Linked DNA regions of Homo sapiens. The protein of the gene in region 3 purifies or fractionates together with the protein of the main gene of each other region. This does not show direct contact. Each region holds a gene or a part of one and is shown on either strand. Other genes may lie near its edges. The genes, in order: GAN, VWA8, NEFM and NES.

Region 1 (7,666 bases), on a different chromosome or scaffold from region 3:
TCAGAAGAGACTGTCTCAAACAAATGAATGTTTATGACAAGTCGACTTGGTGTAATGGAAAAGCTTACAGGGCTGGAAAGCAGAAGATCTAGACCTTAGTCTGTTCTGCCCTGACTGGGTCACACCTATAACCTTGACTGAGTCATTTGCTCATCTGTACTTTGGTTTTCTCTTCAATAAGATAAATCCGTTGGACTTGATATTTGCTAAAGAATTTTCAAACTGTTAATATTTTCTTTGCATTATTTCTCTTACTGGACTCTCTAAGTAGTTTTTAGGAAATAAAAGCCCAACCCCCCAAGTGGATTCCTCTCTTGAGGGCACATTTTTCAAAGCAAAAGAAAGCTTTTTTTTCCCTTTTTGCAAAAAGACATTGCTTTCTTGTTTTTTTAATGATTGTAAAAAATTATGCATGATCAGTACAGAAAATAGAAATCGAGGAAAATACAGAGTAAAAGCTTCTATAATAACACTGAGACAACTATACTTTCACCATCACTGTATCTGTAGCAGGTATCGTACAGCAGGTGCTTTAAAAACAGTTGTTGAATGAATGATTACTGTTAATATCTTGCAAACATCCTTTTTGGTCTTCAGACCAAAAACGAATACATAAATAAATCCTTTCTCTGGGTTGTTTCACCTCTAAACCAGAAGAGCTCAGTAAAGCCACCAGAGACTAAAGCTGTTAGGACAATATCAAATCTCTTACATTGTAATATGTTTCACAATGACAGTTGATATCTGATGCCTATGGAATATAAGGAAACAATAACATTTAATCCATCATTCTGATAGGCACAATATCAAGGGTGGCTCAGTTTGAGCAATATCAAGAAGGCTGCAAAACAGTCCACAGTACTTCAGCTCAAGCAAGAGTGGCTCCGGCAGCACTGGGAGAGTTGGCTCTGCCTCCTGAATCCTTCTTCCCACACTTGGGCCCTCTTCCTTGCCCACAGCACCAGGAGGAGCTTTCTGGGGCATGTGAATTCCACTCAACACATTTTATTGGCAACCTAGCAGCCATTTGATTGTCGACTACATTTTCAGTAAACTAATCGTTTCCTGATTACCTCTGAACATGAATTACAGCCAGATCTTGTCTGTAGACCCATGCTACATTTTTTCCTCCAAATGGAATTAGTTGCTAATGTTGAAAATCCGGAATATTCAACATGTAAAGTCTGAATTGTCAGAATCTCTTAAAAAGTTGTTAGATCCACCACCACTGGGCCCCTATCGCACAGAGCAATCAATCAGAGCTGAGGAGCATGTGCTCTTCAGCTCCCATAAGCCCACCTACTCCTATTGTCTGACATCCCACATCCCACAGTTTGCTTTGCTAATTTACCTGATACGCTCCTGCTAATTATGTAAAACATTCATGGGGTACCTACTACACATCAGGCACTGTGTAAGTCCTGGGAACATAGGCAGATAAGGCAAAGCCCCTGCCTTGGAGGAGCTCACAACCCAGCAGTGGAAATGACTTACAAACCAGTAAATTACAGTACAGTATGGTGAGTACAGCACAGCAGCAGGAGCATGCAGAGGACTGACCCACTCTGTCCTGGGAAGCCAGCTCAAGATTTCCTGAAGGCCATGGTTAAGCTGGGTTTTGAAGGATGAATAAGAGTTCACCAGGCCAATGGAGTGGTGGGGAATACTAGCAACAGTGTGGGTGGTATTAAAAATATATATAAAGTCTTCTTCTGCTTAGCTGCCTGTTGCACAGATGATCCTCTCAAGCCAGCAACTACCTTTCTCTTGATGGTCATTCCATTTCCTCCTTCTATCAAAACAACAGGGAAGGTTCACCTTTATCTGGAAGAGCCTGCCTGACAAATCCCCATTCACCTCCAGTTACTTCAACTAAGGCAACCTTCCTACTCGGATAATTGGTTACCTGACTGTGATCCTACTATTGGAGCTCTTTGTTTTGGAACCTCTGATATTTAAAGAATAGACTAGCACAATAAGCAATTAATAAGTACTTATCAAATATTTACATTGTGTAGAGAACTCTCCCTGGTTTTTGACTTTAAAAATGGCAAACACAAATTAACTAAGAACAGATAGAGAATACAGTTCAGAAAACATTTATTTATTTTATTTTTTATTTTTTTTGAGACAGAGTCTTGCTCTGTCACCCAGGCTGGAGTGCAATGGCGTGATCTCGGCTCACTGCAACCTCTGCCTCCCGGGCTCAAGTGATTCTCCTGCCTCAGCCTCCTGAGCAGTGGGGATTACAGGTGCCTGCCACCACACCTAGCTAATTTTTGTATTTTTAGTAGAGACGGCGTTTTACCATGTTGGCCAGGCTGGTCTCGAACTTCTGACCTCGTGATCCGCCCATCTCGGCCTCCCAAGAAACATTTATTAAGTGTCTGATATTCAGGTGTTTTTCTTTTTTTTAATCCCTCCATCCATCCAACATTCAGTTAGCACTATTACGCACCAAGTACTGTGCTTGGTACCTGGAAATCATGCTGAGCTACAATAAACATAGTATAGCAGGTGACATGGATAAATAAACCCATTATAAAAAGTTTCTTGCTCGAGCAATGTTCAAAATACAGCAACTGCTTGGAGAAAGGAATGTCAGCTGCTCACAGGGATACTGGGTAGGTATCATGGAGAAGATAAGTCCAAGCTGCTTGTCTTGTGTGTTTCTTACCTTTTTAAATATATTTTTCGGCCGGGTGTGGTGGCTTATGCCTGTAATTCCAGTACTTTGGGAAGCCAAGGTGGGCGGATCACAAGGTCAGGAGTTCGATACCAGCCTGGCCAACATGGTAAAACCCCATCTCTACTAAAGATGCAAAAGTTAGCCAGGCATGGTGGCACATGCCTGTAGTCCCAGCTACTTGGGAGGCTGAGGCAGGAGAACCACTTGAACCCGGGAGGCGGAGGTTGCAGTGAACAGAGATTGCACAACTGCACTCCAGCCTGGGCAATAGAGGGAGACTCCATCTCAAAAAAAAAAAAGAAAGAAGAAAATATTTTTCAACATCCACAAAAATATAGAAACAGTACAATGAATCTCCACATCCCCATTAAACATCCACAACAATATAGAGACAGTACAACGAATCTCCACATCCCCATTACGTGGCTTTAACAATTAGTAACTTGCGGCCACTTTTGACTCATCTACACTCCCATCTGCTTCCCCATCCCTTTGTTTTGTTTTGAAGCAAATCCTAGACATCTTTATCATTGCATCCGGGAACACTGAGCTGCATTTACAGAAGAAAGTGGAAATGCATGTGTCTTCCACAGCCGTACCCTCCCCATCTATTCTGCCCTGAAAACAGTTAGATACTCGGATTCCTGCCAGTGACTCCAAAGCCTTGGCTGGTTCAGGGTAAATACCCAAGACTTTATTGGAGCCTTTCAGTTGGTTGAAGGACAGTGAAAATTCCATCCTGTCTTGCCTGGAATGCTAGCCACATTCTTCTGGTCCGGAGTCCTCATACAATTGCTAATTTTTTAGAGGCTTATGGAGTCCCTAACGTTTGCACAAAATGGTTGCTACATTCCACACTCCCATGTGCCCTGAGCAACCTCCAGGGAAACTTCAGATACCGTGGGGCTTGGCCTGCCAGCTGAGCTGACCCAGCGATCCTTTCTATCACAGCTTTGATCTTCACTGGGTTGGGAGCCTGTCTGAATCTAAACATCTGCCTCTCTACTGCCCACCCCTTCAGCATTTCCTAGCTCTCCCTGAAAGGTGCAAACATGCATGCAGTTACTCAAACAGAATATTTATCCTTAACTCCCTCTCCCTCACAATTTCTTTTAAAACAATCCACTATTGTCTACCCCCGCCCCCGCATCACCCTTTCATCCAGGTGCCCATTCCCTTCTCTCTAGTCCTGCAATACCTAAGCATCGATCTGCCTTTAGCACATCCATCCCCGCCTTATTCTCCACGCAGGAGCTGAGTGACCTGCACAAAATCCCCTGCTAAATACGGTACTTCCATGGTTCTTCACCACTGCAGAAACCAAACTCCTTCCCACACCAAGGAGGCCCTGCAAAATTTAAGGCCTCCTTCGGACTTCTCCAGCTTCATCTGCTACATCTCCTTCCTAGCCCGCAACCAAAACCATCTTTTCCGGGTCTGTTTTCTCGGGTTTTTGTCCTCTCACCTGGGCAGCTCCTTTTCTCTCATAAATAAAGAAAGCTACAGCGACTTCGCCCTTGCTTCCATGCATCATCTCATGAGTCCACAACAACACTAAGAATTCGCTTTCATTTTGCAGACGGAGAAACTGAGGATGGGCACCTTACCCATGGCCACAGAGCTAGTAAGTGGAACAGCTGCAACCAGGATTCAAACTCGCGGCTCCAGAGGCCACAGGCTTAACCACGGAATCCTAGCCCGCCCGCACATCCCTCCATCGCGGGAGCGACCTATCTCATCCGTAGACACCTTCCGCTGCACCCAGCCGCAGCTGGTCAGGCGGGCGGAGGAAGGAGGCTTCTGATTGGCCATCTCCAGCAGCGGAGGCGAGAAGGCGGGGAGCGACGGTGCGGGGGCGTCGCGGAGAAATGACTTCATGACGCGGCTTCTTAAAGGCGCCGGCCCAGCGCGCCGCGGATAGCACAGGCACGTCCCGGGGGCTCCAGCTTCTGCTCAGAGCGCGGAGAGCCGGGCCGGGCGGGCGCGCGCGCAGGACTCGGGCCGCTCGAGGGGTCCGGCCGGACGGTGTCGGGAGCCGGACCCGTCGGCAGAGGAGCGGGCGCCGCGATGGCTGAGGGCAGTGCCGTGTCTGACCCTCAGCACGCCGCGCGTCTGCTGCGAGCGCTCAGCTCTTTCCGCGAGGAGTCTCGCTTCTGCGACGCGCACCTGGTCCTCGACGGGGAGGAGATCCCGGTGCAGAAGAACATCCTGGCGGCGGCCAGCCCGTACATCAGGTGGGGAGGGGGCTACGGCGGGCGGGCGCGGCGGTGCTGCCCGGAGCCGGAGGCGGGGCGGCCGGGCCGGGCGTGGCCCCCAGACCCTGTCCCCTGTCCCCGGCGCCGGGGTCCCCGCGTCACCGTTGGCGCGGCGTCCCTCCCGGCAAGCGCCGGAACCCGGCCCCGCTGACCGCGTCCCCCAGGCGGCCTCTGTGGCTTCCAGGCCCGCGCTCCCCACTGGACCCCCGCGCCCCTTGGAGTTGTCCCCGGACCCGGGCCGCGATCCCCCGCCTTGTCCCTCCCGGTTCCCACCGCCGCGGCGAGCGCCCGACCTCGGAGACCCTGAGGCCCCCAGACGCCGTCCTGGGCCGGCCGGGACCCGCACCTGCGGGCTGGGCGAGGCCGCGCCGGGGAAGAGTCACCCCCTCGCCCAGGCCGGGCCCGCGGTCCCCGCTGAAGTTCGCCAGTCGCTCGCCTCTGAATCCACGCGCGGGGGCTGGGCCGGCGCCGCCAACCAGGCGGGGAGCGCCCTGCCCGCTGGGAGGCCAGACAGACAGCGCCTCGCTGGGTGCAGGCAGAGAAAACCCTCTCGATGTTCTCCTTGGGTTGGTAGTCCGAACCTCCGGGCGAAATTCTCCTTGCCAAACGTGTCTTTTCCGCTCCATTCTGGTAACTGTTTAAAAGAGGAGTTACACGTTGAAGTAAACTGTAGCGAATTCTCAGGATGCTGTTACAACCCGAGGACCGTGAGAGCCTTGCGACAAAGGGCATTTTAATACTTTAGTAAAGCAAAGCTTAACCTGATTTGCCAACTCAACTAACCAGGTTAATTAAAAGGTTGATAAGACAGTGCTTATACAAGTGTATCAGATCTTGCAGGAGACTATCTTTTCTTTTAGCAACCTTCTTGCAAACTAGGTTGCTGTTTTAATAAAAGGAAAGGGGGGAATGCTAAAAACTGGAGAAACTGACCAGTAAGCTGGTTAAATATAAGCTAGTGGTAGAGAATATCACTACAATTGACAGGTCAGAAAAAGCAAAATGATGTGTATTCTTAGCGCTTTGTCCCAGCAAAACCACCACGCACGCTACACTTTTAACCTTTGCATTGGGGAGATATCTGTGCTAAACTTAGAAGAAATTCAAGTGCCCTTGTAACTTCTGGTTTCTCTTGGATTTGTTTTGTGAATCCATTTGCGCTCTTTGGCGGTGGGGAGTGTGGAGGGGTGGGGGGGCGGGGCGGCAGTAGGGTCTGGGGTAGCATCGTTAGTACAGAATTTGGATTGCTAATGTGACAGACAGCTTCTAGCTGGCAGTTCCGAGGTTTGAGCAACCCATCCCAAATTGGAGTCAGCAGACCAAAGTCTTCCCTGTTTGGGAAAATGCTGAAGAAAACTACTTTAGATGCATTATTGTTATAGTTCTTTAAATGGCATCCGTTTGGCTTAAAAGAAGTAAATTGCAAATTGCCGAATCCTTGCTTGTTATCCTTGTTCGTTTTTCTCCATAGCACTTACCACTTTGACGTACCCCATATTTTACACATTTACTTTGGTGGTCTTTCCCAACCACAGTGTGACCTCAATGAGGTCGTGGTGTTTTGTTTTGTTTTTCGAGACTGAGTTTCACTCTTTAGCCCAGGCTAGAGTGCAGTGGCGTGATCTCGGCCCACTGCAACCTCCGCCTTCCAGTTTCAAGCGATTCTCCTGCCTCAGCCTCCCGAGTAGCTGGGATTACAAACGCCCGCCACCACGCCCGGATAATTTTTGTATTTTTAGTAGAGTCGGGGTTTTACCATGTTGGCCAGGCTGGTCTCGAACTCCTCACCTCGTGATCCGCCCACCTCGGCCTCCCAAAGTGCTGGGATTACAGGCGTGAGCCGTGGCACCCGGCGGTGTTTTCTTTTATTCACTGCTTTACTCTTTGCACCCAGAAAGAACTGTGCCTATCAGTTAATGTATTGAATGAATGACTGCCTTTCTTTCTACCACAGCAAATGTGTACATTAGAAAATTGGCACCATCACATTTTCATAGTACACAGACGCTCAGTTATACCTAATTGAGAAACGCACTGGATTCAGAGTTTGAAGACCCGCTTTGTGCTTCCAGCTTTTACTCATATTAGCTGTGAGTTGCTGGTAGATGACAAGGCTTCAGCTCACTAATCTGATGAATGAGGGATAAAAATGAGTCTTCTCATTTAATCACACCTGTGAAGAAATACGTAATAGTGTTGACACCTCATAGGTCTGTTCCCATGTCTTCAAAGGTAGTACCCATTGAATTAGGAAATATCTGTAGTCCGGTTCTTTCACTTTCTAAATAAGAAAATAGGGGCTCAGTGGACATTAGTGACTTGTGTTATGAGGTTATTAGTACTTAATGGTTGAACTAGGATTAGACTCCAAATTAATTACGGCTAACCGCCTTCCTACTCTTGCCCTACCACGTTAGAGCATTACTTGTATTTCACCGTTCTCTTTGTGTAAACTTTACTGTTAGCTGGCTTACAATATCTTAGAATTAAAATGTTTATCAAGCACTTTTACATACTGTGTCATTTTGGTTTCCATTTTCAATCATCTTTAAAGAGAAGGCAGATTTTTTTTTTTTATGTTTTGTGGATAAACATGAATCAGTCAATATGTGTTTCATCAGTGACAGATGAATTGCTTTAAGTTTATTTGGCTATTGAAGTGATAGAATGTCTTGGGATGTTTTTAAAAATTATCAATTCCGAAGCTGTTTCAAAGTAATTT
Region 2 (7,338 bases), on a different chromosome or scaffold from region 3:
TGCTGAAGAATGTGAAGAGCCATTGATAAGAGTTAGGCAGAGAAGGAAGGAAATGAGATTTAACAGGTGCCTCCTTTGGGCCACTTGTTTGCACATACATTTACACATTTAGTTTTCCTAGCAGTCACAATAATGTAGGTGATATTTTTCCTACTAAGAAGGCTAAGGTTCCAAAGGTATAATACCATGCATACGCTAACATTTAGTAAAAGTGTACATCAAGCAGTTGAGCCAGGATTTGTGACTCTAAAACCCATACTGTTTCCATTCTCTAAGCTCCACTGTATGCTAGTTGCAGGACGATGGGCAAGTTATATAACTCCTTTGAACTTTGATTCATTCATTCATATAAAAAGGAGATAGTCTATATTGGATTCTGGTGAAAGTTAAATGAGAAAAATCCATGGAATGTGCTTACCACATAGTAAGTTTCCAAAACATGTTAGTTATTGCTAGTAATATGCTTTGCTAGGAATAACCATAAACATAATTATCTATTTAAGGTCCACTGGTAATCAATCACAGCTTTGCTGGTGATCTGCCCGTCGGGGACTACCTTTGTTACAACCTCTAGTCATGTATTTTCCTTACCCCCTGACTGTTTTCCTCTGTGTTACTGACTAAGGCTTGGAGATCTGACCCAAGTCTCCTTTATTCCTTGGTGTGTTAACTGCTTTTCCTTTCAAACACCCCAGTCTTCATGTTGTGAGCCTGCCCTGGCATCCTGAACCTGATTTCACTTTGCTGCCTTCCTTGACAGTATGGATTTGAGAGTGTTCTCCAATACAGTTTTCTCAACAGTCAAGTCCTAAGTCCCTGGACTTGGCAGCTCTTACAGTTGTGATTTGTATCATTTATGCTATAGCTTCCGGATCTCTTACTTTTATAGGATCATACCAAAAAAGAGTTGGATTCTTGGAAAATTGTCCGAGTTAGTGAAAATTTCCGAGTGATTGCCTTGGGCTTGCCAGTGCCAAGGTATTCTGGGAATCCATTAGACCCCCCTCTTCGTTCTCGATTTCAAGCCAGGGATATTTATTATTTACCCTTCAAGGTAAGTAAGACCAAGGATAATTTATTTGTTAAACAGTTTTTCTATTTATAACAAGAACTTCAATGCTATAAAAATGTTACTGCAGTTTTGAATGTCTTCCTGAGTAGGTCATGGAAAGATATGAGAATAAAGAGTAAAGAAAAGCTCTGGAAACTAGGAAGAAAAATTATTATGGCATTATTTGAAGGATTTTTTTTAAAAGGCTGGCTTTTCTTTTAGAAAATGAAATGTATCAATAAATGATTTTTTGCTGTTAAATATTTAGTGTCTGCTTAATTAAAAGGTTGGATTGTATCTACAAAACATTTGCATTTAATCTGTTACATTTCTTGTTAATTAATTTAATATGTTTCTGTATTACTTTAGGACCAACTTAAGTTGTTATATTCAATTGGAGCCAATGTTTCTGCTGAGAAGTAAGTATATTTTTATAAATGTCTGGACACTGAATATTGAATTTGTTTTGCCTGTTCATTGATTGATTGATTAATTAATTCAGTCATTCAACAACTAGAATTCTTATAAGAATTTTTCAGTATTAGGATGTTTGGTGATAAAATTAATAAGATATCTTTGGCAGGAAACTCAAGATCTAATAGAGTTGAAAGATATGTGAATAGCTTTGGTTAACATGGTATAGTAAGTGCCATAATTTGAAAATATTTGGGGGCATTAGTTGAGACTTTATAAGGGCTTCATAAAAGCATTGGTGTTTGAAATGGGTCCTAAATAATGAGCAAGTTTTTGCCAGATAGAGAGTGGAATCAAGAAATTCGAACACAACAAGTGTTTTTTTTTTGTTTTGTTTGTTTGTTTGTTTTAAAAGCATGGAATGTGAGAGTTTATGCCTTGTTTTTAGGGCCATAAAAAACTCTTGGAGGCTAGAGTTTAGGTTTGGGATTACGAAATGTGAGAGATGAGGCTGGCAGGGTAGATTTGGACCAGGTGGTGAAAAACCTCAAATATTGTGATGAATTTAGGAATATATTTGCATCTAATCAGCTTCTGAGTTTTAAGTAGGATATTATGATGCGGAACCATTGTTCCTTAAGAATTAATATTAGGGATCTTTTTTAGATTAATTAAATTGGCCCCTGTATTTTATATTTAACAACTTACACATTTTATATTTTAAAACTATTAAAATTTAATATCATTTTTCCCTTAGAGTTTCTCAGCTCTTGTCCTTTGCCACAACTCTGTGTTCCCAAGAATCTTCTACTCTTGGACTTCCAGACTTTCCTTTAGATAGTTTAGCAGCTGCGGTTCAAATCTTGGTAAGTAAAATAAATTAATGACTGGCATACCCAAATATGTTAAAAATTTTGAAAGTTAATCATTAGGGATTAATGACTTCAGTTTGCTTTTGTCATACTCTTCTATAAATATTGTAAGGCCTGAGATTAATTTGTTGTGCAGTGCAGTAAACTGTACAGAGACCAAGGACATGTTCTGAGCCCCTAAAGAGCTTTCAGCTTTGGAGTAGGAGCTAGACATGCAATCTCAGTAAAGTTCTACAGAGGGAAGGAAGGCTTTAGCCTGATCAAGTAAGAGGTGTGCTGCAGTGTGAGTTAGGCCTCAGAGCTGTCCTTACCTGAGTTAGGGGAGCTAGGGCTTTCACACTGTTCTAGCTTCCATCAGTCTCTGTGTCATGGTTGTCTCAGGGGACACAAATTCCCAGACACTAACTGCTCTCCCAGCATGTGTGCAAGGGTGGCTTCAAGAGCCCAAGGATCGTCTTCTTAGAAAGACCTACAGCAATTGCTGTTGGAAGAGAAAGCTAGGAGGCACAAGAGAGAATGCAAACAGATCTGAGGGGATCTGATAGAGTACAGACATTGTCCACTACAGTTTCACAAAGGGCATGGCGGTCATGTCTGGAGTGATAAAAGGCCCAGGAAGTCAAAGCACAGGCAAATGTGTTTAATCACAAAAGGGCCTAGTATCTTTGGAGAATGAGAATAAGTTGTATCCCTAAAGCAAGTGTGTGTGGTAGAGGGAGAAGTCAGACCGCTATTGTGAAATGTTTTGCATGATGAATGAAGTTTCCTGGATTTTATGATATGGAAAAAGTGGCTTATCAGACAATATTAAGTTGGTGGGCTATGAATGTGACCAGACTTATGTTGGAGGAAGACACCTTTGTTGGAAGTGAGGGAATGACTAGGAAGCTTTTGTAACACTCAGTGAGACCCTGTGGAGGAGGGCACCATCCAAGATAGTGGGAATACTATCTTAGGCAAGAGACTTATTTTTAAACTTGTATGTATGTATGTATGTATGTATGTATGTATGTATGTATGTATATATGTATGTTTCATGTGAGTCAGGGAGCCTAGGTATTGTTGACATTGTTCTATACATCCAGAACAGAATTTCTCCTCCTGTTTATCAAATCTTATACTTTTATCAAATCTTTTTGTTTTTGCTTAGAACATTTTATTTTGAAAATTCTTATGAAATCTTTTGTTTTTGCTTAGAACATTTTACTTTGAAAATTCTCAAATGTAAAAAAAAGTTGAAAAACAGTAAAACATTCATAATCCCCTCACCTACAATCACCCATTATTAATATATTGCCACATTTGTTTGCATGTGCTTTTTTCTTTTTTTTTTTCCTGAACCATTTGGAAGTAAATTGCAGTCAGTACTCTTAAATACTTCAGTGTGTGTATCAGTTCGTTCTCCCGCTGCTATGAAGAAATACCTGAGACTGGGTAATTTATAAAGAAAAGAGGTTTAATTGACTCACAGTTCTGCAAGGCTATGGAGGCCTCAGGAAACTTACAATCGTGGTGGAAGAGGAAGCAAACACGTCCTTCACATGGTGGCAGGAGAGAAAAGTGCAGAGTGAAGGAGGGGAAAAGCCCTTTATAAAGCCATCAGATCTCATGAGAACTCACTATCATGAGAACAGCATGGAGGTTAACTGCCTCCATGATTCAGTTGTCTCCCACTGGGTCCCTCCCATGACACGTGGGGATTGTGGGAGCTACAATTCAAGATGAGATTTGGGTGGGGACACAGCCAAACCATATCAGTATGCAACTTCTAAGAATTAGGACATTCTTCTACATAACCAGAACAACATTATCACACTTCATATCATGTTAACAGTAATCCATAGTATCATCTAATAGATAGTTCATATTGAAATTTCACTAATCTTTCTTGTCAACAGACTTTTAAAGTGGGGTGAACAGAATTGACAGTGCAGATAATGTGAGGAAGGATTTGAGGATAATGAATACTTTCTAATTTTGTAGTTATAACTGTGAAGCTAAGTGAATGTGGATGAGATTAACTTAGGAATAAAAAGGGATCAGGTACTTTGGGATGAATAAGGTAGAGACATGTATTCTGTTTCAAATGGGGGTCTATGGGATATTCATATAGTCACATGTAATGAACAATTGAGGGTTCAGGTTTAGAGCTCAAGAAAGAAGTCAAGACCAGACATAGAAGTGTGGGAGCCATCAATACATAGAAGATAAATGAAAGATGGGAATGGGTAAGCTTACCCAGAGAAAGGGCAAGGAATGAGAAGAGAAAATAATGAATATTTGCTTTTGTAGACTTACAGAAAATACCAGACACCTATTGGTTACTTTTATAAGTCAATTTTAATGTCATATGTACATTTCAGATGTTTTCTGTGATTATTTTGAATTTTGCTCATTCCTATGTATTTTTGCTCCTACATAGGATTCCTTTCCTATGATGCCAATCAAACATGCAATCCAGTGGCTTTATCCATATAGTATTTTACTAGGTCATGAAGGGAAGATGGCTGTGGAAGGTGTTTTAAAGGTGAGTGTCTGCTTCCCTTTCTTTCCTTTCTTTTCCCATTTTCCCTTCCCTTGCCTTTTCCCATCTTCCCCTCACTCCTTTCCCCACCTTTCCTATTTTTCTCTCCCCATCCTTATTTCTTTCCTTTCCCTTCCCCTCCATTCTTTACCAGGCATGGAGGTATCAGCATTCCAACAAGAAGACAGCTGTGATAAATAGGGCAGCAAACACACAGGGGCTGGTGTGATTGGGAGATTGGTTATGTTGAGCAAATAAGTAAATAGATTGAGCAAATGAATGAATATATTAAGGATAATAAGAGTTATGCTTCTCACTGTTGGATGAGGGATTTATAACCATGGAAAGGGGGAAGGCAAGAAAAAACTCTAAGGTATTGGATTGGAATTGGTGTTATTATGAATCATGACTTTTTTTAAACAATATATATGAACAAATAGATAGAGATAGTATGTGTATATGTATACATACACATATTTTCTAGCTGTCTCCTAAGGCAGCCTAAAAACTATGATGTTCTCATATTTAGTTAAAAAAATAGGATTGCTCTCCCTCTCCCTCTCCCTCTCCCCACGGTCTCCCTCTCCCTCTCTTTCCACGGTCTCCCTCTGATGCCCAGCCGAAGCTGGACTGTACTGCTGCCATCTCGGCTCACTGCAACCTCCCTGCCTGATTCTCCTGCCTCAGCCTGCCGAGTGCCTGCGATTGCAGGCGCGCGACGCCACGCCTGACTGGTTTTCGTATTTTTTTGGTGGAGACGGGGTTTCGCTGTGTTGGCCGGGCTGGTCTCCAGCTCCTAACCGCGAGTGATCCGCCAGCCTTGGCCTCCCGGGGTGCTGGGATTGCAGACGGAGTCTGGTTCACTCAGTGCTCAATGGTGCCCAGGCTGGAGTGCAGTGGTGTGATCTCGGCTCGCTACAACCTCCACCTCCCAGCTGCCTGCCTTGGCCTCCCAAAGTGCCGAGATTGCAGCCTCTGCCTGGCCGCCACCCCGTCTGGGAAGTGAGGAGCGTCTCTGCCTGGCCGCCCGTCGTCTGGGACGTGAGGAGCCCCTCTGCCTGGCTGCCCAGTCTGGAAAGTGAGGAGCGTCTCTGCCCGGCCGCCATCCCATCTAGGAAGTGACGAGCGCCTCTTCCCGGTCGCCATCCCATCTAGGAAGTGAGGAGCGTCTCTGCCCGGCCGCCCATCGTCTGAGATGTGGGGAGAGCCTCTGCCCTGCCGCCCCGTCTGGGATGTGAGGAGCACCTCCACCCGGCCGCGACCCCGTCTGGGAGGTGAGGAGCGTCTCTGCCCGGCCGCCCCGTCTGAGAAGTGAGGAGACCCTCCGCCTGGCAACCGCCCGTCTGAGAAGTGAGGAGCCCCTCCGCCCGGAAGCCGCCCCATCTGAGAAGTGAGGAGCCCCTCCGTCCCGGCAGTCACCCTGTCTGGGAAGTGAGGAGCGTCTCCGCCCAGCAGCCACCCCGTCCGGGAGGGAGGTGGGGGTCAGCCCCCGCCAGGCCAGCCGCCCCGTCCGGGAGGGAGGTGGGGGGGTCAGCCCCCCGCCCGGCCAGCCGCCCCGTCCGGGAGGTGAGGGGCACCTCTGCCCGGCCGCCCCTACTGGGAAGTGAGGAGCTCCTCTGCCCAGCCAGTCGCCCCGTCCAGGAGGGAGGTGGGGGGGTCAGCCCCCAGCCCGGCCAGCCGCCCCGTCCGGGAGGTGAGGGGCGCCTCTGCCCGGCCGCCCCTACTGGGAAGTGAGGAGCCCTCTGCCCAGCCGCCCCTACTGGGAAGTGAGGAGCCCCTCTGCCTGGCCACCACCCCGTCTGGGAGGTGTACCCAACAGCTCATTGAGAACGGGCCATGATGACAATGGCGGTTTTGTGGAACAGAAGGGGGGAAAGGTGGGGAAAAGATTGAGAAATCGGATGGTTGCCGTGTCTGTGTAGAAAGAGGTAGACATGGGAGACTTTTCATTTTGTTCTGTACTAAGAAAAATTCTTATCCTGTTGATCTGTGACCTTACCCCCCCCCCCCCCCCCCCGGCAAAAAAAAACTATGATGTTCTAGTAGCAGTGATCATACCAAGTACCTGGACATTGGTTTCTAAATACCATGCTCTCTAAAAGGATTAGGTCAGGGAATGCAGAAGATGAGCCTGGACCATCTTTTTGTGCCAGAGAGTAAGGAAATATTCAACAAATGATGTCGATATGTCAAAATGATGGAGTTCCCAGGTTGAAGTGGCTGAAATCTGGGACAATTTGAGCATAAAAATAAATGATGATGGTAATTGGTTTTAACCTGTTACATAAAATAGGAATCCATGAGTCCATACTGATAGAAATGAACAAAAAATATGGAGATGGGAGTTCTCTTTTAAAGTGTAAAATGCCTACTTGTGAATCTAGAAGGAATTACATAAATAGAAAAAACACCATTTGGCAACCATCAGAGTGGCAGTTAATTTAGACAGGAGTCATCAAAGGATGTTAAAGCTGGCA
Region 3 (8,067 bases):
GGAGTTTTCTAAGGAGAAAATCCAAGAACATAAGACATAGTAAAAATTTCACTAGGCCTTCTGAGCTTCATTACATTCTGGGTATTGTGGTAGCTACCTTTGAATAAATAGAATTACATAAGTAGAATATTCTATGAATTCACTATAATACCTGCTATCACTTACTGGCATATTACATTATACTCAGTGACAGAGAAAGATTCTCCTGGACTGCCAGACAGTTGCCCCCTACAATGACTAACCTTGCCCAATAGTCCACTAACCACACCCAGCTACTAAGTCTTGGCCCTGCAGTAGAGATCCATTAGGTACAACATGAATATGCTGAAAAACTTGTTAGTGGCCAAATAGCAAAAAACAAAAACAAAAACAAAAAAACAAAAAGCCATAAACAAAACGCCCCCAAACTCCAAAGCCAAACAGCCTTTCTGAGAGTAGTCACTTTCTTAAACGTTTAGATTTTCAGGTGTATCGAGTTATAAATTTGTTGATAATTTTTATCATAAAGTGTCTATTTAATGTAGTTATTCAGCTTTCCTGAAAAGAGAGATAGCTCTGTAAATGCAATTTATTCTCGTTATATTATAACTACCTTATTGGTAGCAGAAAAATTTTAATCAACGATTTTGTCCTTTGCGCTTAGTCAACAGCAAGGTCACTTCAGTTAATAGACCTATAACCTATCTCACTATCTATAAAACGATCATATATATTTGTGTCTATATATCTAGATTTATATGCATATGCACATATGTGTATCTATAGATCTAGATTAATATCATACATGATATATTGATATAATTTATACTACAGTCTAGCATAAAATATAATACATATAAATTATCTACATATATAAAAGAACTATATCTATATTCTATCATTCTATATCTATTCTCAGCCAGATGATGGCAATAGTAAGCTATATAACAGAGAAACAGAGAAATAGAACGTCCTGGTGTTTGTCCTTGACATTATACATTTGAAAAGCTGAAACCACTAGATGAAATATTAGAAACCAAAACTCTGTTCATGCTTCCAGCATTTGAAAACATTTTTCCATAAAAAGTTTAAGCATGTGCATTGAGATTAATCTGCACCTCCTTTGTGTAATTCAAAAACCTTTTGTTTCTACTAGTATTCATTCTTTTAAAGCTGCATAAAAAGAGATAAAACTACACTTGCAATTCTTTAGAATAATTTCTTTTTAAGTAAGCAAGATAACCAGGTGCTGAGTTGATGCCTGCACCCTGCCTGCTTTAACTTAAGTGGTGGAAGCTCTGCCGGAACAGCCTCTGCACTGCGGTTAGTGTTCCGGCCACGCACGTAGTAAGCATCGTACCTGTACGCAGCGATTTCTATATCCAGAGCCATCTTGACGTTGAGGAGGTCCTGGTATTCGCGCAAATGACGAGCCATTTCCCACTTTGTGCCCCGAAGCTCATTTTCCAGCTGCTGGATGGTGTCCTGAAACAGACACAGAGAATCTCCCCAGACTCATCCTTGCAAACAGCAACTTCCTTCGCAAACCACTTGCTACCCCTTCCCCCTGGCCTCCTCCCGTCTCCCTCCACTTCTGCAAACCTCGCTGACACCTGACTCCCAGCCCCCCGTCCCACCCCCTTTTTCTTTTAAATCTAAGCGATTCTCAAATGAACATACAAGATCAGTAAGACAATAGGACACTTCCTGGGCACATCACGCACGGAGACCAGTGGACTTAGAACACGTCTCAACAGGACACAAACATGCATGGGGAAACTCCATGGCTGACCTGGCCATTCCCATCTGAGCCCTTTGGGCTGAAGCCAATTTTGAGAGCTCTTCCGATCACTGCCGGAAAAGTAGAGAATACACGCGTTTCTGCATAAGCTATCCTAAAGTTGCTGATTTATCCACTACCGAATTCATCCCTCCTGCTTTAAACGTGCAAGCGTGCAAAATTAGAACTGGAAAAGATGCACGTTTCTGAAAAAGGTCAAGACCCTTAGCAGCTGGGGCAGGTGGGTGGGGGCGGAGTGTGGAGGATGAGATGGGCGAGGACGCTGATCCGCAAATACCCTAGGTCTGCGGCGCGCGTGCTCTAGCGAGCGGCCACCAGGGAGCGCGGCGGAGAGGGCGCCTGGGCACGAGCCCAAGTGTCGGGGGCGCGCGGCGCTGGCGCTGGCGCAGGCTGGCCGCGCAGCCGCGGTTCCTACCTGGTAGCTGCTGAGGTCGTGGTTGTGGCGCTCCTCGATGTCGCTGAGCTGCCGCTCCAGGGACTCCTTGGTGCCGCGCACCGACTCTAGCTCGATGCTCTTGGACTGCAGCTGGCGCCGGTACTCGGCGATCTCTTCCTTGGCGGAGCGGATGGCCTCCTTGTTCTGCTCGGCCGCCTCGGTGAGCTTGGCGTAGCGGCATTTGAACCACTCTTCGGCCTGGTGCATATTCTGGTCTGAGTGGCTTTCGAGCTGGGAGCGGATTTCCTTCAGCGCCGTCGAGATGTCTGTCTTCAGGTAGTCTTTGCGCTCCACCGTGATGTGCGATGCCTGGATCTGGGCCAGAAGGTCGGCCACCTCCTCCTCGTGGTTGCTCCGCAGGAAGGCCACCTCATCCTGCAGCGACTGCACCTTCTTGTCCAGCTCCACCTTGACCAGCGACGCCTCCTCGATGTCTTTGCGCAGCGCGCGGATGGCCGCCTCAGTGTCGTCGCGCAACCGCGCCTCCTCCTCAAAGCGCTCCTTGAGCCGGTGGATGTCTTCCTCCAGGTGGTCCGAGTCCAGCTGCACCTGAGCCTTCTCGTGGTTCACCATCTCCAGGGTGGCGCGCAGCTCGCGGATCTCCTGGTCGTACGCGTCGCCCAGCTGGGCGTGCGAGGCCTGCTTCTGCCGCAGCGCCTGGATCTCCGCCTCAATCTCCTTATTCTGCTGCTCCAGGTAGTGCACCTTCTCTATGTAGCCGGCAAAGCGGTCGTTCAGCCCCTGCAGCTGCTCCTTCTCGTTGGAGCGGGACAGCTTGTAGTCGCCGCCGGGTCCGGAGCCGCCGTTGAGCAGGGACGAGGACTGGCTGAAGTCAAGGCTGCTCTCGGCGGAGCTGAGCATGGCCGAGCTGTAAGCGAGGCGCGGGGCGAGCATGCTGCGCTTATAGGAGGAGGACACGGTGCTGGGCGAGCCGCGGGACCACGACTGCGAGCGGAAGCCACTGGACGGGGAGCCGCTGACGCGGCTGAAGCTCGAGCGGGTCTCGGTTACCCGCCGGTAGGCGGACGGGTTGCCCAGCGAGTCCAACGTGTAGCTCATCTTGGAGGCCTTGGGGCGTGTGGCTGTCACAGCGTTCTGCCGGCCTCGCCGCAGCCCATTTATAGCCGCGGCGCTGGTCCCGGGCCAGGGCCCCGCCCCGTGGAGGCGGCGGCCGAGGAGGCGGGGACTGCGGGCACCGGTCGGGGAGGAGGGGAGGGGGGCGGCTGAACGGTGATTCAGCGCCCGCTCCACGTGGGCCCAGGCCGCATGGGAACCTGGACTTTTCTGCCCTGGGCCCAGCCCCTCCCCCAGGTCCCCTTTCAGTCCCAGGCTACTTGTAGCCGGGCATTCGCCTTCTTTCCATTTCTCACCTCCCGATTGCGTTTCGCACCCTTGGTGCGAATATCGCCAGCGCCCTTTCTTTGTCACTGTCCCGCCGTTCAGGCAGCGCTTCCCCGACCCCGTGGTCCCCTTGTTCTTTAGCCTTCTACCCTCTTATCCTCAAGGCTTTCTCTTATTTTGCCCTTTCCCTGATACTTTTTTCTTTACCCATCTTCTGTGCTTAATTTCATCCCCTTCTTTTTTGGCCCCTCTTCTCCTTCCTACTCTGGCCTTTAGTCCAGTTCACCCTGCCCTTCTCTCAGCCCCTTCCTCGGAGATCCTTTTCTTCCAATCTTTCCTTCTCCCCGTCTCCTCCCTCCTTCCCCTTGCATTCCCTCTTTTCCCCTCCCCCACCCTCATCTTTTCTTGCCTCCCTCCCCTTCCCCCACCCCTTGTCTTAAAGCAGCTGGAGATGAGCGCCGAGGAGCTGGGTCTAGAAGACAAAACAAAACAAAAAAAAAGACTTTGCGGAACGGTCTGCCTGAAGGCTTCGGGAAGGGGACAAAGAGAACAGGCCGGGGTAGTTATTTGTATAAAAAGTGGGATATGGCGTTTTTAACGTTTGGGGGACGTCCGCAGCTTCCGCAGGGGCAGAAGGTAAGGCGCTTGTGCTCGCTATGGCGCCGGCAGCACCAAGGACAGCGCCCAGGTCGGCGAGTGGGAGGTGCAGCCACCCGGGGGGCTTGTCACCCAGCCTGGCCTGTCAGGTTGGCAGGGGGCAGGGGGTTCCCTTCCCCCTCTTCTCTCCGAGTAAATACAATTTAAACCTGCCTGTAGTGACTATCTTTGCAGGAGCGAAGCTGGAATCACAGGCTAAGACTTCCCTGCAATGCAGGGTTGGCACAATGGACAGATCGCAGATTTTGAAAACAACCAAAATTCATTAAAGTCAGTTAACAGAAATATATACTTGTAGCCCAGTTTGAGTTTTCTAACATATGGTGGTATAGGAAATGAAGAGATACAGGGCCTGAAATGTGAAGGTCAAATACTCCTTGGAAAGGAGAATTTGAAATCTGTTGGGATGAAAAGTCCAGGGAAATATAGTTTTTCTTAAGTTTGGACACAGACAATTGCCTTGTCATCTTTCGGTTCAGTATTCCCTATGTGTAACTGCAATGATTGAAAAGGCATCTGAATTAACTTTAAATTGATTTAAAAGTTGCGGAACAGAGTCACCACAACCTTGAATAAAATCAGATGTTTTCCCTTCATTTAAAATGTAATATATTTTTCGCTTTAGATTTTAATGATTGATTTGGAATAGATTTTCTATATCATTAAACATGTTTATGCAAACAAGAACTCTACACAGACTTCTTGCTGTCTGGTGTACTCCTGTTAAAATGTCCCTTTATTTTGGGTAGTGCTTTGGGGGTAATTCAGGTTAAAAAAGTTCAGAATACTACAAGATAAAGTGAAGAAGAGATTGCAGAACTAACAACAGCGCTGGGGCCACAGGTACAAGTGACTGAATGTGCAACGCTTGCTATGGGTGAGAAGAAACTACTGCTTATAAAAAGTAGGGACTCCAGACCGAAATAGCTTCTTTTCACAGCATGTTTCCTTAAGTCCCTGTTTTATTAAAAGACAGGATCATATTCATCAGTAAGTAATCAGGAAAGGGGTGGGTTTCTAGAGGTTTTATTTTTTATTTTTATCAGCTCCCTTGGCCCATCTGTATTAAAATAGAAATAATGTTTTAAACAGGAGGTGCTAATTTTGGGAGTTACTTTGGTTTATTAATATGAAACTGCAGTATCGCAGGCCATGTAGGAGAAGGATGTTCTAGTTTGCTGAGAGACCTTAGGCAAGCAGAGCCCATCCATGTCTTGAGTTGTTGAGAGAGACAGATGATGGAATGAGGGGACTGACTTGTGAATACTGTAAAAACAGGATTTTCTGGTTTTATGTAGATAAATAAAGGCAAGGAGAAAGAAAATTCCCTGCCTTCTGTAAAGTATTGCGGATGTCAGGCTGGACTCAGCAGGATACCATCTAGATAAGGCCAAATGCTAATTATGCAGTAATTTTGCCTTTGTTGCTTATTACTTTCTGCTTTTATTGAAATATATAAAAATCCTTGGCAATTTCATGGTGCACATTCACTGCAAACTCTGCAATGAGAGTACATGGTTAACCGGCAGCCTTCTGCTGTTAATTTTCTTTAGGGCTTTGGAAACGAGATGACTCTGCAGAGAGACATTTACAAGGAAACACATGTCTAACTTCACAATTACCCAGTTTTGCCTTGTATCTGAAGTAGCTGAGAAATTGTTCAGCTTCCAGCTGGTTACAGAAGGAGGAAAGTGTTGCGTACAAACAAAATAAGTCAGTTACTCAGGCTACATCTAGTGCCTATAACTTAAAATTGTAACTTCAATGTCACATGATATATTGTTCAATCTGGGCACTACAGGATAATGCAAAGAATTAAAACAGTTGTTTTATTAAGAAAAAACAGTTCCCATGGCTTAAAAAATGATGGATCCAGTTTCACATTTAGCAAAATGTTTTCTTTTATATTAAACTCTTCCACTTTAACTACTCTTCCTAAAGGTGATTTGAAGGTTATACCCATCAGTAAATTTAGTATGAAAACTTTTTTTAAAAAGCTATAAAAGATGTTTTTCCCTTTTTGTCTCATAGTTTTGAAGAATATTTACCATCTTAATAGTTTTCACAGAAAGAAATGCTTTTGCATTTTTTTAAACCCTAAGAACACTAAGGCTATGAAATCTTCTCAAAATATTAAAAAGAGAGAAAACAATCATGGCAACTCACCCGGATTAACCACACTGCATTCATGGAATTAAGTTTGACTACGATACTTTTGTAATTTATTCTAAATAGAAAAGTTTCTCATATGATTTAGATGTAAGACATTTTAAATGAAATTATCTCTGAATTGTTGTTTCATAAGCTACAGTCTGTTTTGAATCACTTTATAGAGAAATACAAGGCATGCTCCAATCTATATGTTCCTTCAGTAGGGAAAGTGAAAATGTTAACTTTGCAGCTAAGAGATGATAGCCACTGTCAGGTTTTGTAGGGTGTCATCTAATACTGGGAAAATATCATTTGCAAAGGTGGTATATTTACTGGGTCATAAAATAAAGATAAAAAATAAGGAGTTAGGCATTTTCTCCCATCTTTCCCTATTTCCTTACATTTCTTCTTTTAAATAGCATTTTTGGATATAAAAAAATGCAAGGAGGATGGGATGTAGGAACTGGATAGCAAGAAAGATACTCCAGATGGACAACGTCACTTTCAAATTGGTAGGCTGAATCCATCCAAGATGAGATGATCTGTACTTTCTTTCAACCTATTGTGTCTTGAACTTAATCCGTTTGCCTGGGATCTGGTTCTAGAACTCATAATAATTATTTATAACCTGTCCTCTGCTAATTGTTTAAGGGGTTGTTGATGTAGGAAGCTAGGGACTTAGTCTGCCGAAGCAGGAACACAAGAAAAAGGAAGCTATATTACATATTTCTACTTGATCCTCAGGATGTCAAACTTTAAAAGCAGTGTTGACTTTTGATTTTGTTGTTGTCAAGAGTTGAAAGCAAAATAAAAATATTCTCAGGGGAGAAAGACTGTTTCTTGTCAGGGAAATTGGGATGTATATGTATGTCCCTATTGTCTTTGATCAAAACAAATCCATCTAGACCACAGTGTTCCTTTTCTGTCATTAGGCCACTGAAATGGTGTTTGTTTCCCTTGCCAAATATTTTATTCTTTGAATATTGCCTTCTATTTGTCAGTTACTGTTATGATGAAGTTAATTGAAGTATTTACAAAACTTAAAACATTTAATCTTTATTATATTCCAAATGTTAAATTAATCAGTTTTAAAATTCTATATCTGGAAATTTCATGTGTGTGGTGGGGGAAAATTTAGCTTTTGGCTTTAACATAGCTTGCTGATTTTTTTGCTGTGTAATGCTTTCACCTCTCCACTGTGAATCCTTTCTGTGAAAGCCAGGGGAGAAAGATTTAGAATTTTAAAAAAGTACTTAATAGAGCCTTGGTAAAAGTGACTCTAAAAATAAAGTTCAGTAGATGCATAATAAAAGAGTACTCCTGTATTAATTTTCAGCATGTTTTTAACTGAACCCATTAGCTTTACCTATAAAGCAGCAACAGATGTTGATGATATGCACTTGAATTTTGAAAACCCTGCCTTGCACGTAACTGCACCAGTGCAGCTATGAAATATTTATGACATATTTTATCCCAAGCTTACCAAGGCCTGACTTAGCAAGAGACATAATTCTTTTATTAGAAACTCTTAATTAAAATGAGCTTCGTAAAACTAGAGCAGATCAATGATCTTTGGACCAAATTTCTGAAAAGAGCTAAACCTGGGAACAGAAAGTCACAAAGAAGCCCCACCTAATAATTCAGTCTCATTGTCCCAGGACTGGGTGATTTTTTTTCAATCTCTGCAAATTTGAAAATCAAT
Region 4 (6,145 bases), on a different chromosome or scaffold from region 3:
CACCGCCAGGGAAGAGAAGCCCAGAAGGAAGGCCGCAGCACTGGCAAGGACAGAGGTGAGGCTACAGCGAGTGCTAACCAGACTCAGAGATCATGGAGCAAAGCAGAGAGGAGCAGCTGCTCATCCTAAGTTATTGAATTGATTGGTCCCTGCTCCCCTCTTTGGTTCAAGGGGCGCTGAGGAAGGGGCCTGGACACAAAGACCTCTGTGCCCCGAAGAGCTTGGGATCCAGAGTGCTTAGAGATCCTGAGATGAGGGCCCTGACCCCCAGTGAAGCCACCAAGGGGAAGGGTCTGGTGGGCCCCGAGGAATTTAACTGCTATTTTTTGAGGCATGAAAAGGATTTGGAGAGGGGGAGCTGAATTCATTTGCTTTTGTCTGTCGCTAGCTCTGGGGGCCACCGGGGAAGGAGGAGGGAGCCCATCCCATGGGAACGGCCTGAGAATTCCCACTTCCCCAGAATCCTCTCCTTCTCAGACCCTCCAGATGGTGGCTTGGACAATGGCAGCAATTAGCATGAGAATCGGTCCCCCACACAGAGGATGAGGTCATTGGCCTGGGGTGGGAGGAGGAGGCTAGCCTAAGCCTTGTGTGGGTGTGTGTAGGGCAATGTCCGACTGTGTGGGAATCTGCTTCTATGTCTGAGCTCTGCTGTGTATCCCAAATACAGTGTGACTTTGTGTGACCAAGTGTGTGATGTCTGTGGGTATGTGACTGTGTGATTTCACCCTGAGTGTGGCTTTTGTGTGACAGTGTCAAATGAAGAGGAAGCCTGCAGGGCCTGGATGGTGCAAGCTCAGCCTGAGTTGTCCCCAGCTGGCTTGCTGCCTGCAGGCCTGGGGGCAGAGGGCTGACCCCACTTTCCCTCTGTCCTCTCCAGGACCCTCCTGGAGGCTGAGAACTCCCGGCTGCAAACACCTGGCGGTGGCTCCAAGACTTCCCTCAGCTTTCAGGGTAAGAGGAGGGGCCAAGTTCCCCCAGAAACTACCCTGCTTTGCTCTTCATACCCAGACCTATCTTTCCCGAGAGGCACCAATCTAAATTTCAAGTCCGTGGCCTCCAGTGTCAGTGAGCATGCTCTCAGCCCAGCCATGGGCGCCAGGGGCAGGCGCATGGATACTCTTGCCAGCGGTGGCTGCTCTGTGGCTCCCCTCATTGCCAGTGATATACTGATGCTGTTTCTTCCCCCTCTGCCTTTCCAGACCCCAAGCTGGAGCTGCAATTCCCTAGGACCCCAGAGGGCCGGCGTCTTGGATCTTTGCTCCCAGTCCTGAGCCCAACTTCCCTCCCCTCACCCTTGCCTGCTACCCTTGAGACACCTGTGCCAGCCTTTCTTAAGAACCAAGAATTCCTCCAGGCCCGTACCCCTACCTTGGCCAGCACCCCCATCCCCCCCACACCTCAGGCACCCTCTCCTGCTGTAGATGCAGAGATCAGAGCCCAGGATGCTCCTCTCTCTCTGCTCCAGACACAGGGTGGGAGGAAACAGGCTCCAGAGCCCCTGCGGGCTGAAGCCAGGGTGGCCATTCCTGCCAGCGTCCTGCCTGGACCAGAGGAGCCTGGGGGCCAGCGGCAAGAGGCCAGTACAGGCCAGTCCCCAGAGGACCATGCCTCCTTGGCACCACCCCTCAGCCCTGACCACTCCAGTTTAGAGGCTAAGGATGGAGAATCCGGTGGGTCTAGAGTGTTCAGCATATGCCGAGGGGAAGGTGAAGGGCAAATCTGGGGGTTGGTAGAGAAAGAAACAGCCATAGAGGGCAAAGTGGTAAGCAGCTTGCAGCAGGAAATATGGGAAGAAGAGGATCTAAACAGGAAGGAAATCCAGGACTCCCAGGTTCCTTTGGAAAAAGAAACCCTGAAGTCTCTGGGAGAGGAGATTCAAGAGTCACTGAAGACTCTGGAAAACCAGAGCCATGAGACACTAGAAAGGGAGAATCAAGAATGTCCGAGGTCTTTAGAAGAAGACTTAGAAACACTAAAAAGTCTAGAAAAGGAAAATAAAGAGCTATTAAAGGATGTGGAGGTAGTGAGACCTCTAGAAAAAGAGGCTGTAGGCCAACTTAAGCCTACAGGAAAAGAGGACACACAGACATTGCAATCCCTGCAAAAGGAGAATCAAGAACTAATGAAATCTCTTGAAGGTAATCTAGAGACATTTTTATTTCCAGGAACGGAAAATCAAGAATTAGTAAGTTCTCTGCAAGAGAACTTAGAGTCATTGACAGCTCTGGAAAAGGAGAATCAAGAGCCACTGAGATCTCCAGAAGTAGGGGATGAGGAGGCACTGAGACCTCTGACAAAGGAGAATCAGGAACCCCTGAGGTCTCTTGAAGATGAGAACAAAGAGGCCTTTAGATCTCTAGAAAAAGAGAACCAGGAGCCACTGAAGACTCTAGAAGAAGAGGACCAGAGTATTGTGAGACCTCTAGAAACAGAGAATCACAAATCACTGAGGTCTTTAGAAGAACAGGACCAAGAGACATTGAGAACTCTTGAAAAAGAGACTCAACAGCGACGGAGGTCTCTAGGGGAACAGGATCAGATGACATTAAGACCCCCAGAAAAAGTGGATCTAGAACCACTGAAGTCTCTTGACCAGGAGATAGCTAGACCTCTTGAAAATGAGAATCAAGAGTTCTTAAAGTCACTCAAAGAAGAGAGCGTAGAGGCAGTAAAATCTTTAGAAACAGAGATCCTAGAATCACTGAAGTCTGCGGGACAAGAGAACCTGGAAACACTGAAATCTCCAGAAACTCAAGCACCACTGTGGACTCCAGAAGAAATAAATCAGGGGGCAATGAATCCTCTAGAAAAGGAAATTCAAGAACCACTGGAGTCTGTGGAAGTGAACCAAGAGACATTCAGACTCCTGGAAGAGGAGAATCAGGAATCATTGAGATCTCTGGGAGCATGGAACCTGGAGAATTTGAGATCTCCAGAGGAGGTAGACAAGGAAAGTCAAAGGAATCTGGAAGAGGAAGAGAACCTGGGAAAGGGAGAGTACCAAGAGTCACTGAGGTCTCTGGAGGAGGAGGGACAGGAGCTGCCGCAGTCTGCAGATGTGCAGAGGTGGGAAGATACGGTGGAGAAGGACCAAGAACTGGCTCAGGAAAGCCCTCCTGGGATGGCTGGAGTGGAAAATGAGGATGAGGCAGAGCTGAATCTGAGGGAGCAGGATGGCTTCACTGGGAAGGAGGAGGTGGTAGAGCAGGGAGAGCTGAATGCCACAGAGGAGGTCTGGATCCCAGGCGAGGGGCACCCAGAGAGCCCTGAGCCCAAAGAGCAGAGAGGCCTGGTTGAGGGAGCCAGTGTGAAGGGAGGGGCTGAGGGCCTCCAGGACCCTGAAGGGCAATCACAACAGGTGGGGGCCCCAGGCCTCCAGGCTCCCCAGGGGCTGCCAGAGGCGATAGAGCCCCTGGTGGAAGATGATGTGGCCCCAGGGGGTGACCAAGCCTCCCCAGAGGTCATGTTGGGGTCAGAGCCTGCCATGGGTGAGTCTGCTGCGGGAGCTGAGCCAGGCCCGGGGCAGGGGGTGGGAGGGCTGGGGGACCCAGGCCATCTGACCAGGGAAGAGGTGATGGAACCACCCCTGGAAGAGGAGAGTTTGGAGGCAAAGAGGGTTCAGGGCTTGGAAGGGCCTAGAAAGGACCTAGAGGAGGCAGGTGGTCTGGGGACAGAGTTCTCCGAGCTGCCTGGGAAGAGCAGAGACCCTTGGGAGCCTCCCAGGGAGGGTAGGGAGGAGTCAGAGGCTGAGGCCCCCAGGGGAGCAGAGGAGGCGTTCCCTGCTGAGACCCTGGGCCACACTGGAAGTGATGCCCCTTCACCTTGGCCTCTGGGGTCAGAGGAAGCTGAGGAGGATGTACCACCAGTGCTGGTCTCCCCCAGCCCAACGTACACCCCGATCCTGGAAGATGCCCCTGGGCCTCAGCCTCAGGCTGAAGGGAGTCAGGAGGCTAGCTGGGGGGTGCAGGGGAGGGCTGAAGCCCTGGGGAAAGTAGAGAGCGAGCAGGAGGAGTTGGGTTCTGGGGAGATCCCCGAGGGCCCCCAGGAGGAAGGGGAGGAGAGCAGAGAAGAGAGCGAGGAGGATGAGCTCGGGGAGACCCTTCCAGACTCCACTCCCCTGGGCTTCTACCTCAGGTCCCCCACCTCCCCCAGGTGGGACCCCACTGGAGAGCAGAGGCCACCCCCTCAAGGGGAGACTGGAAAGGAGGGCTGGGATCCTGCTGTCCTGGCTTCCGAGGGCCTTGAGGCCCCACCCTCAGAAAAGGAGGAGGGGGAGGAGGGAGAAGAGGAGTGTGGCCGTGACTCTGACCTGTCAGAAGAATTTGAGGACCTGGGGACTGAGGCACCTTTTCTTCCTGGGGTCCCTGGGGAGGTGGCAGAACCTCTGGGCCAGGTGCCCCAGCTGCTACTGGATCCTGCAGCCTGGGATCGAGATGGGGAGTCCGATGGGTTTGCAGATGAGGAAGAAAGTGGGGAGGAGGGAGAGGAGGATCAGGAGGAGGGGAGGGAGCCAGGGGCTGGGCGGTGGGGGCCAGGGTCTTCTGTTGGCAGCCTCCAGGCCCTGAGTAGCTCCCAGAGAGGGGAATTCCTGGAGTCTGATTCTGTGAGTGTCAGTGTCCCCTGGGATGACAGCTTGAGGGGTGCAGTGGCTGGTGCCCCCAAGACTGCCCTGGAAACGGAGTCCCAGGACAGTGCTGAGCCTTCTGGCTCAGAGGAAGAGTCTGACCCTGTTTCCTTGGAGAGGGAGGACAAAGTCCCTGGCCCTCTAGAGATCCCCAGTGGGATGGAGGATGCAGGCCCAGGGGCAGACATCATTGGTGTTAATGGCCAGGGTCCCAACTTGGAGGGGAAGTCACAGCATGTGAATGGGGGAGTGATGAACGGGCTGGAGCAGTCTGAGGAAGTGGGGCAAGGAATGCCGCTAGTCTCTGAGGGAGACCGAGGGAGCCCCTTTCAGGAGGAGGAGGGGAGTGCTCTGAAGACCTCTTGGGCAGGGGCTCCTGTTCACCTGGGCCAGGGTCAGTTCCTGAAGTTCACTCAGAGGGAAGGAGATAGAGAGTCCTGGTCCTCAGGGGAGGACTAGGAAAAGACCATCTGCCCGGCACTGGGGACTTAGGGGTGCGGGGAGGGGAAGGACGCCTCCAAGCCCGCTCCCTGCTCAGGAGCAGCACTCTTAACTTACGATCTCTTGACATATGGTTTCTGGCTGAGAGGCCTGGCCCGCTAAGGTGAAAAGGGGTGTGGCAAAGGAGCCTACTCCAAGAATGGAGGCTGTAGGAATATAACCTCCCACCCTGCAAAGGGAATCTCTTGCCTGCTCCATCTCATAGGCTAAGTCAGCTGAATCCCGATAGTACTAGGTCCCCTTCCCTCCGCATCCCGTCAGCTGGAAAAGGCCTGTGGCCCAGAGGCTTCTCCAAAGGGAGGGTGACATGCTGGCTTTTGTGCCCAAGCTCACCAGCCCTGCGCCACCTCACTGCAGTAGTGCACCATCTCACTGCAGTAGCACGCCCTCCTGGGCCGTCTGGCCTGTGGCTAATGGAGGTGACGGCACTCCCATGTGCTGACTCCCCCCATCCCTGCCACGCTGTGGCCCTGCCTGGCTAGTCCCTGCCTGAATAAAGTAATGCCTCCGCTTCAAAGTCTGGACTCTTCTTTCCCCCACTCAGAGGGGACCCTCAGGGTTAGTACAGGAGAGAGATGGCGGGGGCGGGCGGGGGGTGGCGGGGGAGAGGAGGAAGCTGGTGCTGGGGAGGGGCTGCCTCCTGAGGAGAGGAGGACCTGGGGGGATGAGGGCAGACAGACCCAAGCTGCAGGGAGCAGTGCTGGGGCCTGGGGAGGGCCAGGGGCTGTTGCTTGGCTGGGGGAGGCCAGTCCAGGTGACCTCAGCGCCTGCAGAAGCCAGGCCCATCATCATCTCTGCCCACAGTACTGATTACAGGGATTAGGCCTTGGGGCCACCCCCACCCTTGTATACCCCCCCCCATTAGTGCCTTGGTGCCGCCAGCATAATAAGCCCCCTTGTCTCTAAACCCAAACAAGTTGTCTGGCCTGATCTCCTCAGCCTGACTGGGTGGGAGCAGGGTGAGGGAAGAGGCAGGCCTGTTCTTCCTCAGTCTGGCTGCATGGCCTCAGGTCAGCA

What was found.
Region 1: the proteins of NEFM (region 3) and GAN purify together in Homo sapiens (affinity purification with mass spectrometry; 3 studies listed by BioGRID and IntAct, with this or other methods). This does not show direct contact.
Region 2: the proteins of NEFM (region 3) and VWA8 purify together in Homo sapiens (co-immunoprecipitation; 2 studies listed by BioGRID and IntAct, with this or other methods). This does not show direct contact.
Region 4: the proteins of NEFM (region 3) and NES purify together in Homo sapiens (co-immunoprecipitation; 3 studies listed by BioGRID and IntAct, with this or other methods). This does not show direct contact.

What each region holds. Positions count from the first base shown.
Region 1 is NC_000016.10:81,310,358-81,318,023, forward strand, and holds the start of GAN (gigaxonin), read left to right. Parts: upstream 1-4,604; 5' UTR 4,605-4,756; coding exon 4,757-4,923; intron 4,924-7,666. UniProt on the Homo sapiens protein: Probable cytoskeletal component that directly or indirectly plays an important role in neurofilament architecture.
Region 2 is NC_000013.11:41,880,913-41,888,250, reverse strand, and holds part of VWA8 (von Willebrand factor A domain-containing protein 8 isoform a precursor), read left to right. Parts: intron 1-889; coding exon 890-1,054; intron 1,055-1,420; coding exon 1,421-1,470; intron 1,471-2,222; coding exon 2,223-2,331; intron 2,332-4,759; coding exon 4,760-4,864; intron 4,865-7,338. UniProt on the Homo sapiens protein: Exhibits ATPase activity in vitro.
Region 3 is NC_000008.11:24,909,002-24,917,068, reverse strand, and holds the start of NEFM (neurofilament medium polypeptide), read right to left. Parts: upstream 3,309-8,067; 5' UTR 3,276-3,308; coding exon 2,196-3,275; intron 2,083-2,195; exon of another isoform or gene 1,772-2,082; intron 1,465-1,771; coding exon 1,340-1,464; intron 9-1,339; coding exon 1-8. UniProt on the Homo sapiens protein: Neurofilaments usually contain three intermediate filament proteins: NEFL, NEFM, and NEFH which are involved in the maintenance of neuronal caliber.
Region 4 is NC_000001.11:156,668,263-156,674,407, reverse strand, and holds the end of NES (nestin), read left to right. Parts: intron 1-880; coding exon 881-954; intron 955-1,202; coding exon 1,203-5,086; 3' UTR 5,087-5,645; downstream 5,646-6,145. UniProt on the Homo sapiens protein: Required for brain and eye development.